Regions from separate parts of the Homo sapiens genome. Here all the other regions are linked to region 1. Evidence: fine-mapped expression QTL. A gene starts in region 1. Each other region holds a variant in brackets. All regions are shown on one strand. Distances are from middle to middle.

Region 1 (5,229 bases):
AAGCCCCAGAATCCCATTGCCGACTGTGTGTTTTGCCCATAAATCTTCAAATTAGTCAAGCTTTGTCAGTTCAGAGCGGTGCAAAATAAATAATATTAATAAACATGAATCATTTCAAGTCATAGCATAAACCTGAAAATTTCTTCCCCCAAATAGATAATTTTTATACATCCAAAGGTGGAGTCTAATAAGGAAAGTTAGTAATGAAAATTGCTAACACTGAAATCTTGTGCTCATCTCTTTTCAGCAGTGTAAAATAGAATACTTTATCAAAATGGAACTGTCAATAATGTTCAATTTCCTTTAACAACTACACTCTAAATAGATTTAACTGGCTATTTCCTTCACACATTCTCAATGAGAGTATTGATTAGTATGAAAGAAATTGACAAATAATTAGAATCATATCCCCAAACTTCCTATCTATTAATCATAAGGAAACACAGAGGCTTGCTTAGGTCTCCCAGTTTTTTAATGATGACTTTCATTCATGTTTCTCAGAGAAACAAAAGAATATACTTCATATTATTTTGTATGTAACTCCTTTGCATAGCAATTCTCAAATATTAGTATTCATCAATAACCACTTTAAGGTTATATCATTAGAATTGTCTATGTTCTTGTCTTGTTATCAGTAATAAAACCATGAGAAATTCCCATCTAGTATTTCTGATGCTTTAGGGAATACTAAGTAATAGATTTGAAAAAACTTACAAGTGCCCTCTAATTACAAGACAGGATTAAGCTCCATGGAAATACAGCAGTGGAATAAGCTTTTCAACTTAACGGTTTTTTAAATACACTCTTGTTTTCCCATGGAAAGATGTTTAAAAATCATTATGATTCATGATAACCAATTATTTTGTTGTTTTTGGATGAGATTATTTTTATAGATTTATTGAGTTATAACTGACAACACATTAAATTGTTCATATTTACAGTAAACAATAAGTTTTGACATATGTTTGCACCTGTGAAGCTATAACCACAATCTAGATAGTGAATATTTCCATCATGAGACATAATTTTGAGTATGTCAAAAATGTAAAATTTTGGTGACCATCAGATTTCCAGGGATATCTGGCTTCAGGAGGCCATATTTATTGTTTAGTGAATGATTTTTCTCTAATTTATTGTCATCTTTTGAACATTAGTGCACTAGCAGAACAAAAGATTAGGCAGACTCTGGGCTTTTTCATTTTAGCATTATTGAGGAGCACCTGAATGGTCCTGAAGTTGGCCTTTGAATATACCAATGGACAGGTATGAAATCCTCAAGATGCGCATGGTGGCCAAGAGTCCCACAGTCTCACAGTGTGTGCGGTACCGTCTGCGCCCACCTTTCCTAGAGAAGAAACAGCAGAAAAACCTATTCCTTCACCCTGTGTGTTGTGGTGAATCTTAGTTTTTAAAGGCACATTATTTTATTATATAAACAACTTGGGAACCAATAAAACACAAGACATTTGAAAAGATGGGTCTTCGTATGGGCACAACATATGATAAGGCAAGTCACTTTCCTCCTCTGAGTTTGGGTTTATTTGCTGACTATCTTCCATTTTATCACAGTGAACTGTAAAGAAAAAGATGCAAGCTTCATGGAATGTCCAAATTCTGAAATACAACGGACTGCACAGACAGCTTATGATTAGGATGGCCTTGGCTCAGTGTTTCTGAAAGCAAATGTACAGCTTTTGTCCTTGCCTATTGACACCCTGTTTGCCCTCAGGGCTGGTCAGGGTGAGATCTGTTAAGCTTTTTTTGGAGGCTGTCCTGATAACTCATTTCTTTACTCCACTATTTTCAGGCCCATTCTGGAAACGCAGGATTTAACCGCGGGGTTGCAGCTTCCCTGGTCTCCATCTGCCATCAGAACCCATCTCCACCCCTTCCCCGTTCAGACCTGTGTCCCCTCCACAACTCATACTGGTCACTCTCAGAACTGTGGCCCTGAGTTCTCTAGCTTTCCCTCTTTGCCTCGGGACCCAGGACACCAGTCGGGGCTTAACTTTCTCAGTTGGGAAGGCGACGCTGCTGGTGGCTGCTGCTACTTGCTGGTTCTTCCTTTTTTTTCCTCCCCAAACGAGAGGAAGATTCGAGTGGATTTGGCACATCCCCTAACCGGGGCCTGCCATTTGCAGGTTGGGGGCTGACGTGCCCAGGAGGACCCGGACCAAGCAGGCCATTTTCACCTGCGTAATAACAGGATTGGGAATAGCGAAGCAGCGGCGGCAGCAGCGAGTGGAGTAGGAGGAGGAGCGCAGGCAGCGGCCGCGGCGGGGCCGGAGGAAGAGGAGGGGGGAGAAGGAGGAGCTGAAGCGGGAAGAGCGGCAGGCAGCGGCTCGGCGGAGTTGCAGCAGAGGCGGCGGCGACGCTGAGACACCGCAGCTTCCCTGAGCGCCGAGTCCCTCCGGGGACAGCAGCAGGGAGCGCCCGCGCAGCCACCGAGCCTCTGCCCAGCCAAGCCGCCGTCGCCGCGCCGGGGGACCGCCAGCCATGGCCGCGCCGGGGGATCCGCAGGACGAGCTGCTGCCGCTGGCCGGCCCCGGGTCCCAGTGGCTCAGGCACCGGGGGGAGGGGGAGAACGAAGCGGTGACGCCGAAAGGGGCCACGCCGGCGCCGCAGGCTGGGGAGCCCAGCCCGGGGTTGGGCGCCAGGGCCCGGGAAGCGGCGTCGCGGGAAGCCGGCTCGGGCCCCGCCCGGCAGTCGCCCGTTGCCATGGAAACTGCATCCACAGGTAAGGCGGGCGCCGCTGCCCCTCAAATGGCGTCGGGGACCAGGGCCCCCCAGTCAGTCCCCTTCTGCGCGGCTCTCCTGGGCACCTGCCTCGCGCTTTCTGCCTTGAGCGCCGACCCCACCCCCGCGTCGCCACGGGCGACTGGGAATATTCGCGGGCTGGTAGAAAACAACAATTTTATTTTTCCCAAAGGCTCAGAAAAAGTCAAGATGCTTTTGATCCTTTTATTTCATTATCATGATTATTTCCGCTTTAAAAATTGTTCTCATAGGCAAACAGCAGCATTCTGGCTGCTGGCGAGTCTGGGTACAAGTTTCTCCCTCCTGCCAGGAGGCTCCGAGCTGTAGGGCCCGTTTGACAGGTTGTGGGGATTTTGGGGGGCGTGTTTGCGCGCAGTGTGCGCGCCGGCTACAGGAGATGCTGACAACCGAGCGGCGGGCAGGCCCGCGGCCCCTGGACCCGGCTCTGTCCAGGGCAGAGATGTGGCTGTAACTGCCCCTTACCCTTGCCCTCCACGAATCGCCACCACACCTTACTCCCCCCACATCCCTCCGCCTTTTCTCCCGCAGAAAACAAATCCCAGGGAGTTTGTCCCTAATTCGGGAGGCACAGCTTTGCAAGAGGGTTGGGTGCTGTGGCTGCCCCCGCCCAAAACCTGTATTTCGCCGCTGCCCGGATGGCCCCACCTTGCAGGGAGCATTGAAACTTCAAGTCCTAAGTGCGGCGGGCCTGGCTGTGGGTTGGAGGGCTTGGGTGGTGGTGAGTGGACGTGGTACAGTTTACCAGCAGTCTAAGCGCCCCCCCCCCCCCACCCCGGAAATTGCCCTGGGTTTGGCCATTCTTCGCCTGACGCCCTATTCAAAGTCTGAGCGCGCCAGTGTCCAGCGGGAGCCCAGGCCCCTGGCGCATCCTGGTCAAAGGATCCAGGAAGCGCGCTTTGAGGCTGCCGGCCTGGTTAACGCTGTTTCCAGGGAGAGGAAAGGGGATGCTGTGTGGTGCTCTTTCCTGAGAAAGCTTTGCTATGGTGGAGTGGGAGTTGTGTAGTTTTGGCAATGTAGAGCTAGAAGGCCTGGGGTGGGGGGTGCTCCCAGAGGAGGGGAAGGGGAGTGGGACTGGTGTGTGTGCTCTTGGTGGTTGATTTAAAGAAACCCCTTTTCGTAAGCTTCTCTTAAGGGTTATGTGGAATGTCTAAGGTAATCGTAATTAACTGCCCTGGTACAGAAGATCTGAGCTGGGGAAAAGAGGTTTGGAGAATGCGTTGAATAAAAATTGTCAATATCCTGAAAGGAAGAGAAAAAGTGGAGACCCTATATAAGAAAAAAGAAAAAGAAAGAAAGAAAAGTACTCAAAAGCCCCAACGCCAAACGCCAAAGGTTATATATTAATTATTATATCCCTAGGAGTGGGGGAGGATTTAAATCTAAGAATGGCTGCTCAGTCTCTCTTTCAACTTCTGCATCCAAGTGAAAACAAAACTCTTTATAATTGCAAAAGAAGATGGCAAATGATAATAGACAAAGGAAGGTAGTTTTTGTCTTTACCATTCTTTGTTGAGGATAGACTGCTCATAGTTCAGAATCTTTATCCACTGTAATCAAAGTAAATTGTTTCTTTATGAAACATTACCCACCTCCTATTAGTGCCACTAAGATTATGTGAACTAGAAAAAGGAAGCTAAGTGCCCCATGCTCAGTAACATATCCACAAAAGTTATTATATAGGAAATGCTTAGAATATATATTTGTGGGGTACAGTGTGATGTTTTGACATATGTCTGCATTGTCAAATGATTAGCTAACAAATCCATCATCTCATGTACTTTTTTTTTGTGGTAAAAGCGTTTAAAATTTACTCTTTTAGCAATTTCAAAATGTACAGTGCATTGTTACAGAAAGGTGGCTGTAGTAAATAACAATGCATTTTGCATTTTTAGTATTATTATTATAGAAATACCTTGCTTTATTGAATGTGTTTGGGGTTTTCTATCCTAGGCAACAAATATAGTAATAAAATCAAACATGATACTACGTTTGGATGGGAGAAGAATGAAGAAAGATGGAAGGAGCACATATTTTGCATATTTATATAGAAATTTTTTAGTTTATGATTGTGGCTAGAAGGAATTTCTGATATAGTTGTTGATTGGTTAATGTCTTAAATCTCTGTGTTTCTTATTAAGTAGACCGGATGTGCTGCTATAAGAGACTCAAACGCCAGAAATGCTGTATAAATAAATAACTAGATCTTAAAATTCCAAACAAATCTTGTCCAGCTTCCTGGTCTGTTATTTTGGCAGTTCTATTGCTATAAGCAAAGTTAGCAGGTGAGCCCTCAATTGTATCAGAGATGCCTATTAAGCACACTACTTTACACTGTATTTCTTAATTTACTTTTTTTTGGCTTATAAACAGAAATTTATTTTCTCACAGTGCTAGAAGCTGAGAAATCTAAGATCAAGGTAGATTTGGTGTCTGGTCAGGGTCTGCTTCCTG
Region 2 (5,229 bases), 300 kb after region 1:
TGCGAGAGAGGGAGAAATATTTATGCACCAGCTCCTGTCTATCACTGGTCTGATGCTTGCCCTACCTCTTGTACTTCTGGGTTATACATGCATGGGTGTGGGTGCATAAAGAAGCCCCATGTAGAAGTTGCAGAAGTCCTAGGCAGGAGGTGAGAAGTGCATGGAACGGGCGGGAATCAGGCACTATCAGACTGCACCTGTCTGAAATTGATCCAAGCCCACAGAAAGCTGGTTACCAGAGCAGCAGCAGAAATAAGAGAAATAATTAGTAGGTAAGATTGAGAGGGACCAAGGGAGTAAGAAATGCTTGATAAAAAACATTATTAAAAGAATATTTCAAAGAAAGCTTTTTTGCGTGAAAGTCAGTATCTACAGTTGTGCTTTTCCTCAAATAATGTAGTAATATTTCCACTTACTTTGAAGAATGTGTCCGAGACGCTCGCAGATTAAATCTTTTTGAGATAAATACAATAAAAATGAGAATTACAAGGACAGAGAATGAAATAGAGCTTCTGAAGAAGAAAATAACTGACCTGACAAAATATAATGAAGCTCTGGGGTAGGTATTCTTATATTCAGTATTTGAGGGAGCAGGGGTCTGAGGCTGGAGTGGGAAAATTGTCGGGAGGGGTTTACTCTCTGATCTGAACTGTGGCAGGGCGAGTTGAGAGGTGAAGATGGCTTGTAGGAGATGGCCCAGGCTGATGGGGTAGGGAAGGTGGTGGCTACAGAGGACTGAGGAGGAGAGCAGAAAATCTTCAACCACAGCAGCCAGGAGGCTTGTAATATTTCAGAGGCAATCCAGCTTCCTAGCAGCAACTACTGTTTGTAAATCACACACTACCTCTAATGCTACATCCAAAGGTAGACACACAATGGGTTTAGTTTCCATTTTTGTAGAATTAAGTTTACAAACCCCCACCACCAAAGTAAGAAATCTTGCAGGGATTATATTGTAAATCTAATGTCAAACCAGACCTATTGTATCTAGTTCAGTTCATTGAAGATATTTAGTCATATTTGTAATCCACTGAAGGACTGAGGATGAGGCTGGTTCCCAGGACAGGGTTCCAGATTGTGTCTGTAATTAAATGAGATAATATATGAAACTGCCTATAGCTCAAGATCTGACACCTCTTAGTGAGCCTCATTTTCTCCATCTGTGAAATGGGGATCACAACTCTTAACTTTGCTAGCTCATGAAAGGAAGAGATATATTCTGAAAGATAGGCCCCCTTGAAGAATTACCCCTATGAGAAAATTTGATAAATTTTAATAAATATCATAAATATCAGCATGTTAGTTTCCAGAGTGAGAAATGTTCACAAAGAGCCCTTATCATAGGGGAAAAAAAGTCTTCTTGGGAATCCAAAATAATCAGAGGGTTGCCTGGTGTCCCAGATAATAAACATCAGAAATCAGCTAGAGACCTCAAGACCCAGGGACATTGATCCCAAACCAGGCTCTCAGAACACCTGTGCTGGGAGATGCTCCACAAAAGAGAAAGTTCATGATTACATAAGTTTGAGAAATACCACATACTCTAATCCCTGTTGGGGATTCACAATACAGATTTGTGTGTGGTGCGTGCTAGCCACCATGGCCAGAGCCTGCTACATAAACTAGACTATTCCTAAACTAATAGCAAGAAAAATAATACCCAGGCTAGATATTTATATCAACCGGTCAGCAACATCACATTCCTATAGACCAGTGATTCTCTAACTTGAGCTTGCATCAGAATCATCTGGAGGGCTTGTTAAAACACAAATTACTGGGACTTGCTTCCAAAATTGCTGATTTAACAGATCTGGGAGGAGTGCGGTGGGGATAAGAATTTGCATTCCTGACAGGTGATGCTGCTGCTGCTGGTCCTGACCACATTGGGAGAACCACTGCTCTAGACAAATCTTTACGGAAAGGCAATAACAAACAGAAGGTGGTGGCAGGTGTGTTGGCATCATCAAGCTACAATCATTTGTTGCATCATTTTTTCAAAGAGAAATGAATATCAAAGTGTTCACAGACTCTGACAGGTGGTGGGTATGTCTCCTGTCCTGGGCAAATTTCAAAAACTAGATACAGACAGAGCAGCTGTTTGAATGTGTTTTCCTGAGGCTCCACACTGTGTTTGTGAGTGTTCTTTTCTTCTCAGCCCATCACAACACACCTAGTGAGGTTTTTTGATTTCACTTATTTTGCTTTGTTTCCCCGAGGCTCCAGTCCTCAAGTTGATTCATTCTTAGAAGGCTTCCTCTGCTGCATCCACAAAGCACCCATTATCTGACCACCTACTGAGCCTCTCACCTAGACTTCTTTTTATTGCATTTCTTTTGTGGAGTTTGACCTCTGAAAGCAAACTTCCCAGCAGCCTGCTTTTATTTTCCTGAGCCTTCAAACACAATTCCTCTGAAACTCACTAGCCTTGAGGACTAGCAAAAGGAAAAGGGTCTTTACATTGCAGGAGCTTTTAAAAAGGAAAATAGAGAAATGGCACCAATTGTCCCTTTTGTAAACCTTTTGTTGTTAGCCTCTGGGTAGACAAAATCTTAAGGTCTTCCTCAGACAATCTTAAGGTCTTCCTTAGATGGACACCGCCCGCAATGGATGTGTGAGGTTAATGACTCCTATTGAGCTCAGAGTTGGCTACAGCTGGGAGAAGGTAAGAGGGCTCAAATTAGGTTTCAGGCATCCTTCAAACAGTAAAGATAGACTCTTTTCTTTCCCTAGTTTCTATCCAGAGGAAGGTGAGCTTTCTGTTGGGCCCTGCCTGCAGGGCTATAGCATCCAGGGTGGCTGGAGATGTGATGAGATTTCTCTTTCTTTA[G/C]CTTAACAGCCTATCTCAGGATGATAAGATAGACATGATGACAATACATATCAAAACACTCATCTGGCCAGATCCCATTCAGATCCTGTTCAAAATTACTTTTGAGTCATTGTATACTTTAACCCAAAATACCCTGTGGTCACTACCTGGCATCTGGGGACGGGTGGGGCGAGGCAAGGCCACGTGACATTCAAAAGTGGTAAAAGTTGCAAGGTTGATGCTTGTTTTGTGTTTCCTTCTGTCCTCATCTCAATTTTTTTTTTTTAATTTCAGACAGAGACTCACTCTGTCACTCAGGCTAGAGTGCAGTGGCATGATCTCGGCTCACTGCAACCTCTGCCTCCCAGGTTCAAGCAATTATCCTGCCTCAGCCTCCCGAGTAGCTGGGATTACAGGAGCACGCCACCATCCCCGGCTAATTTTTGTATTTTTAGTAGAGACAGGGTTTCACCATGTTGGCCAGGCTGCAATCTAACTCCTGACCTCTTAGGTGATTTGCCCACCTCGGCCTCCCAAAGTGCTAGGATTACAGGCATGAGCCACTGCACCTGGCCTTCAACCAAGTTTAGACAATCATAAACACAGTCATAAAATAAGTATTCCTTACACTTTTCCTCTTGCTGAGGGCTCTTCTCACCACACAGACTATTCCTTTCTTAGGAGCTGTGCTTCTCACTCTGTGAGCAATTCTTTCCTCCCAGGGAGAAGCAGGAAGAGCTAGCAAGGAAGCATGCAAGGTTTGTCCTGTCACTCAACCAAACTATGGAGAAAAAAGCCACCACCACTGTTTACATAAATGAGACTTATACCAAAATAAACTTGAAGAGAGAAGACATAGCATTGCAAAAAAAATGTATTCAAGAGGCAGAGGAGCTAATGGAAAAAGAAAGGGCAGAATATCTAATAAGAAAACAAGAGTTGACTGCACAGGTAAGTGGCATGATTTATTCTTTAAAATACAATAATGTATAGAATCTGGAGCAGGAAATGGGAAATAATTTATTTGTCCTCAAGGCTGGCAAGCAGCCTCTGTGGTATCTTCTGTGAACGCGCTGGGAAAACGGGATGAGCGGGAGACTCAAGGACACTTCTGCTCTTGGGGAAGACATTTGATTGGTAGCAGCATCTCAGTTCATGGGTAAGAATATAAGTGACAGGATTTGTAACACTGGGGTGTCCCCTTGCTTATATGCTGCCATACAGGGACAAGGAATAGGCTACCATCTTATCCAGTTGCCTTTGATAACCCTGAGACTGTGTCTGTATGGACAGGACTAGGGTATTCAGATAGGGCACCAGCCCAGCCCTGCTGTTCCTGATAAATGAATCAGAGAGAGCAGCAGCATGCAGTGGGGCCAGGCAGAACTGAGGGCTTTAAAGAGAAAACAATGTTTCGAGAGCAGCAAAATTTGTGAGGGTGGGGGAGGGATAACTACTGCATCTTTTTCTGCCACTGCAGGAGCTGAACTGCCTGCTGTGCCATGTTAATTAAAATTCAGCATCAGATCTGTTATGATTGTTTCTTCCTTGTTCTGCTCTGGTTGACTGGGGGAGAGGTGGTTTTGATAAGAGGGTGACATCGTTCATTAGGGTCTAACAAGTGGCACTGTGATAAAATGGTAAGAAGTTTTCCAGGATTACAAGCTGCTCTGTCTTTGATGATTTTGTTTACTCTGTGTTTAGCTGGTTTTATTTCCCATTAAATAATGTGAATTTAGATTCCCAGATAATTTCTTCAATCCTTCCTTCGACTCTTCTTGTTTGCTTAGTACGTTGTAAATCCGGTCACCACTGCTGTGGTGATTTACTATTAAATCACTACCGTGGCAATTACTTTTATAATTAGTTATTAACAATCATTGTTAGTATTGCTCTTACAAATTTACTATTTCAATATTCAATAATTACAGTTTGGCCTTTGTGGCTCATGCTTTTTCCTGTGATACTGCAAAATAAGGAAACCCTGGTTTTTAGGTTTATTTTTTACTTATTACTATACTTGAATATGTTATACTTAGATTAAATATGAATTAGGTTGACACTGTTTTTAAAAGATTTTTTAAACTTTGTTGTGCTAATAGGCTTTTTAAATTGGTTTCTTATGCTTGTCACTATAGATTAATGAATTTGAAAATACCCGTGAAGTAAAGAGAATGGAGACTTATCAAAAGAAGAAAGAATTGGATAAATTACAAACTAAAATGTCAAAAATAAAAGAAACAGTTACTGTTTCCGCAGCGGTAAGAAAGAATAAACTATATATATTTTTAAGCCTTATCTAGGCACCTCAATAAAAAAGGAGTTGATTGTAATTCATCTTCATGTCATGCTGAGAGGATGTTTTCTGCACGTTAACATTTTCTGACACTTTCTTTAAAGCGTTATGGTGCAATTGTGGTTTC
Region 3 (5,229 bases), 71 kb after region 1:
TGATGAATTTTGTTTGACCCCAAACGTATTTGACTGGGATACTTTTTTCCTGTGTTACCCACGAACACAGATTTTTACATGGAACAGTACAGGAAGAACTGAAAATTGTGGAATTTTCTCTAAGTATAGAAGACTTTAACTTATCATAGTCCATCTTCTAATAATATATCTCTCATGTATAGCGTTATAATCTTATAAGAGTATACTTCCATTCCTCCTTCATATCTTTTGTGCTTTTGTTGAGAATACAGTCTTGCTATTGTTCCTTCAGCCAGTTATCTGTAGTTACATATATATGAAATTTCATAATTTATCTTCTTCCTGCAGAACTGTCTATAACTTTTCTCCCATTGCCTAGCTGCTGATAGTGATTCTCCTTGCTATAGTTTGTCTGAAATGATGGCTTTATTATGCCATTATTTTTGAGATATGTTTTCACTGAGTATAGAATTTTATATTGACAGTTAACTATTTTTTTCTTTCAGTATGTTAAATATGCTATTCTGTTGTCTTCTGGCTTGCATAGTTTCTGATAAGAAGGCTGTTATAGTTCTTATCTTTCCTCCCCTGTCTGTAATGATTCTTTTTCCTTGTCTTGAAGATTTTGTCTATGTCTTTAGTTCTCAGCAGACTGACTATGGTGTATCTAGACATATTGGTTTAAAAAAATTGTTTTACCTGCTTGGAGTCTCCTAGGGTTCTTGAATCAGTGATTTTTTGTCTTGATTAATTTTGGAAAGTTCTCAGCCGTTATCATTTAAAATATTTTCTGCCTTATTTTTGCTCTACCTTGTATTTCTGAGATTCTAATTACATGTATGTTACCTGTTTGATGTTGTCCCAGAGAGCTTGGATGCTGTGTTTTGTTTTTTCCTCCCCCATTCTTTTTCTATGTGTTCAGCTTGGACAATTTCTAGTTATTTATCTTTTAGTTCACTGATTCTTTCCTCAGTTGTGTCCAGTAAGCTGATGAGCTTTTTGAAGGACTTTTTTTTTTACATCTTTTATTTCCAGCATTTACATTAGAATATTAAAAAAATTTTTTACTCCTCTGGTGAAATTTCCTTTCTGTTCATTAATCTTTTATATTTTCTTCTAGATCTTTTATTATATTAATCGTAGTTATTTTAATCTCTCTGTATGATATTTCTGACATCTGTGTCACCTCTGAGTTTGATTCTACTGATTGCTTTATCTCTTGACAATGTTCTCTGTTTAAATAATTATTTTAAGATGTATTTTTGGCCCGGTGTGGTGGCTCACGCCTGTAATCCCAGCACTTTGGGAGGCTGAGGTGGGCAGATCACGAGGTCAGGAAATCGAGACCATCCTGGCTAACACGGTGAAACCCTGTCTCTACTAAAAATGTAAGAAGTTAGCCAGGCGTGGTGGTGGGCGCCTGTAGTCCCAGCTACTCAGGAAGCTGAGGCAGGAGAATGGTGTGAACCCTGGAGGCAGAGCTTGCAGTGAGCCGAGATCGTGCCACTGCCCTCCAGCCTGGGGGACAGAGTGAGACTCTGACTCAAAACAAAAACAAAAACAACAACAACAAAAAGATGTATTTTTGTGTTTCCTTTTAGTTTTGAATAAATGCCAAACATCAAAAAATAATAGAGAAAGAGGCAAATAGCATTTATGCCCAGAAATGAGCATACCCCTAATCTTATGTAAGGCTGTTAGGGTGGGGGTTTGAGTCAGTGTCTGGTTGAATTAGGCTGGGATTTTGTTTCTAGAGTTACCTTCATTGCCTCACAGGCTTCAAATTCCTCTCACAATGGGTTACTGTTACCTTCTGCTTCTGTGGTCATATAATGCCAGAAGGCTTTTCTCAATTTTCCTGCCTCACTCTCAGCTTCCAGCAGGCTCTGTATATCTGTGCCACGGAGGGGTTCTCTTTCCTTGCCCATCTTTCACCAGTAAATTAATTTTGCTTATTACTTTTTGCCAGGCTTATGGGGGTGGAGATAGGAATTCTCCCCATCTAGCTTTAGTTTTAGGTGAGTTCTCTGTGTCTAGATCTTAAAGGGAAGTCTTTTTCAGTGTTCATGCACCTCTACCTCTTTGTCTGTCAAACTCTGCCTTGTGTCTCTGGAAGCTCTTGAAAAGTACGGAATCCTCTCCCCCAGCCAACCCCAGCCCAGTGACTTACAGCTTTTTTTCCTAGGAGAGAAGAGTCTGTCAAAGTGGGCAGTATTTTTTGTTTGCCTCCCGGCACCTGGTCACGACCTGAATGCCTATGCCACCAAAGGACACTCTGCTCTCCTGCCCTTTTCCAAATATTTCTTGTGAGCACCAAATGAGAATCCATGGAGAAGAATGTGAACTCTC[C/T]ATGTGTCTGGGGTACCCAGTTATTCTAAAATTATGCATTAGCCCACATTTAAATTTGATTTATCATATTATGGTGGCTGTCTCTTTCTTCCATGCTCTATTAAAGGTGAAAGAATTCATGTGTCCCATCTCTCTAGGGAGGGCTTTTGACTTTGAAATTCAGTTCTCTTGGCTGCCTTATTACCTCAACTCTCTGATGGCCCTGAGAAAATTGATGATTTTGTAGATTATCCACATTTGCCTCAATGTTAAAAGGAGAGTGATGTTCTCCTGAAGCTTTCCACTTGTTAAGAAGCAGAATTCCATCCTACATGGTTATGGTGATGAGTGGAATTTGATGAGTATGGCTTGCCAGTTTATTCTCATTCTATAAGGTATTTTGTTTTTATTCAGACTAAGTGTACTATCCTTAGCCTTTTTTCTGAATGTCCTTTTAAAGAATTTTAAATCCTTTTCTTTCATCTCAAATCACGAGGTAATACCCTAACTTGCATGTAGCGAATCACGTGTTTAAAATAATACTACACTTGTTTGTGAAACCAAGTCATAATTCACTTGACCTAATTGTAGAGAAATGAATTAATACACTTTTAGAAAAATTCAGACATGATTGCTTGAAAAATCTGGCAATTGTTTTTCAAGAGATCTTAGCAAATCACTAACTGTTATGGGAGTGCTAAGAATCCTATATCATTTTAATAGTTTGAGTCACTTTTTAAGTCACTAATACTTGAAATAAATTTTTATCTGTAAATTTATTAACTTCAACACTGTGGTAAACAGAATAATGTCTCCCCACCCCCACCCCTGCTGTCACCAAATGATATCCATGTCCTAATCCCTGAAACCCGTTAATATTTTACATTATATGGCAAAAGAGATTTTGCAGAAGTGATTAAGCTAAGAATATTAAAATGTTGAGATTATCCAGGCGGGCCCAATGTAATCACAAGAGTCCTTAGATGAGGCAGGCAGGAAGATCAGAGTCAGGTAAGAGGATGTGACCATGGAAGCAGAGATCCTAATCAGAGAGAGAGAGAGAGATTGGGAGATGTTATGATGCTGGCTTTGAAGATGGAGAATGGGGCACAAGCCAAGGAATGTAGGCAGCTACTTTTTCTCTTAGAGCCTCCTAAAGAACCCATGCTACTAACCCCTTGATTTTAGGACCTTTTGAATTCCATAACTGTAAGGTAATAAATTTGTGTTGTTTAAGCCACTAAATCTGTGATAATTTGTTACAGTTATAGTAGCAATAGGAAATTAATATACAAGCTGATATAACTTGTATTAAGTTATAAGCTGATATAACTTGCCCAAATTCATGCAATTAGTCAGTGGTGAGCTATATCTGAACTCTGAGGCATATACCTCCAAATCTTAGAATAATATTGTACTTGTTTGTATAGCCAAGTCATAATTCACTTGACCTCATTGGAGAGAAATGAATTAACACATTTTTTGAAAAATTCAGACACATCAATTGCTTGAAAAACATAGTACAGTATATCTCTGGAATAAGGGGTGTTATATCCATTTGCCCAGGATAAGAGGATGCTAAGAATCATGACTCTGCTCTTTCTGTTAAAATGGATAATTTTTTATGAATCTATATCTGCTAAAATCACAAAATAAAATCCATTAAGCCCCTCAAGTGATATTATAAAGGACCAATGGCAGTGTTACTAACTAAACTCGTATTTGACTAAAAGTCTTTTAAAATGTTGGCATCACTGGGTCAACATTTCTTATGCTATGAAGACAAGTTGGATTTTAGCCTTTCAAACACTATAAACACTATTCCTCAATAGTGTTAACAAAGATGACGCTAGGCAAAATAATGAAACCAGCAGAATTTTATCTTTAATATGACTCTGGTACTTCTACTTCTTTATAAGGAATGAGTAAATAATGCTTTAAACCAAAGAAATAATTCTAATAATGAGAATTTCAGACTGTGAGTCCAGTCACAAGGGCAGATATTTAGTGGCATTCAGATGTTTTGGTATATCACCAATGTCCTGCCATGTAGGTAGCTACCTCTTTGACTATGCTGAGAAGCATCCCTGGAGTATTCTTTTTACTAAATAGTAGGTTCTGGTTACTGATTGCACAATGGACTTTTGAATAACTAAAGAGAAAGCTTTCTATATAGCTTTACAGGACAGAAGACTGCTAGATATTGCAGTGCCTTTTCAGAATCAGAATCCACTGGTTCCCCACTTTGACTCCTTTCAAAGCTGATCTTTTAATTGGCATAGGTTGCATTTGCAATACACATAACCCACTGGAATTAGGGAAACCAAGATTGTTGTTGGACAAAGGAATTTTTCCCATATTATTATCCCATACTCTCTGTGCTTATAGAAGTTGCTCAAAAATGGTGTACAGTGGTGGTGACGAAGATTTGTTTTGCATTTAGCAATAGTTTATTACATAGAATAAGAAGCTCAAACTGCTTCATAGAAAATAAATAATAAATCTTCCAAAGGAATCATCCATGGAAGCAAAGAGCTTATATTAATTCCAACAATGATGGAAGGAAAAGTTCTGAAAATTCATGTGATCCACTTGGAATTTGACTAAGTTATTCATAGATTATAATAATTTGCAATTGAGTTCATATATAACCTTAACATACCTGATCTTTTATTGATTAACTCAACAAACTTTTATTGAACCCCTACTTTGTGTGAGGCACTATTTTAGGCACTGTGGATATGAAGATAGACAGGATAAAATCGCCGCCTTCAGGGGCCCACAATCTAGTTGGTGAAAGAGATCAGTAAATTAACAGGTGGAAATAACATGATGAATGCAACCAGAGAATAATTTCTTTGGAGAAAATTGGAAGGAGTACCTCTACTGTTTACAGAGGTTGGGGTAAACTGTCTTCACAAT

What was found. PIP is the estimated chance that this variant, and not a neighbour inherited with it, causes the effect.
Region 2: its variant is the best candidate, but not a certain one, in a credible set for the expression of RTN1 in whole blood (TOPMed, PIP 0.63).
Region 3: its variant is the best candidate, but not a certain one, in a credible set for the expression of RTN1 in whole blood (GTEx, PIP 0.55).

The regions. Positions count from the first base shown.
Region 1 is chr14:59,867,898-59,873,126 of GRCh38, reverse strand. It overlaps RTN1 (reticulon 1), which reads left to right and starts at 2,351. Exons shown (of 9, transcript NM_021136.3): 1 at 2,351-2,737. The coding sequence starts at 2,497. RefSeq lists a silencer at 2,343-2,442.
Region 2 is chr14:59,563,575-59,568,803 of GRCh38, reverse strand. It overlaps CCDC175 (coiled-coil domain containing 175), which reads left to right. Exons shown (of 20, transcript NM_001164399.2): 4 at 424-559; 5 at 3,529-3,757; 6 at 4,945-5,067. Among named protein-coding and RNA genes, the nearest start is that of CCDC175, 11 kb to the left of the region's middle. The variant G/C (reference allele first, on the strand shown) is at 2,828.
Region 3 is chr14:59,796,714-59,801,942 of GRCh38, reverse strand. The region is part of intron 1 of RTN1 (reticulon 1); the gene reads left to right. Among named protein-coding and RNA genes, the nearest start is that of RTN1, 71 kb to the left of the region's middle. The variant C/T (reference allele first, on the strand shown) is at 2,329.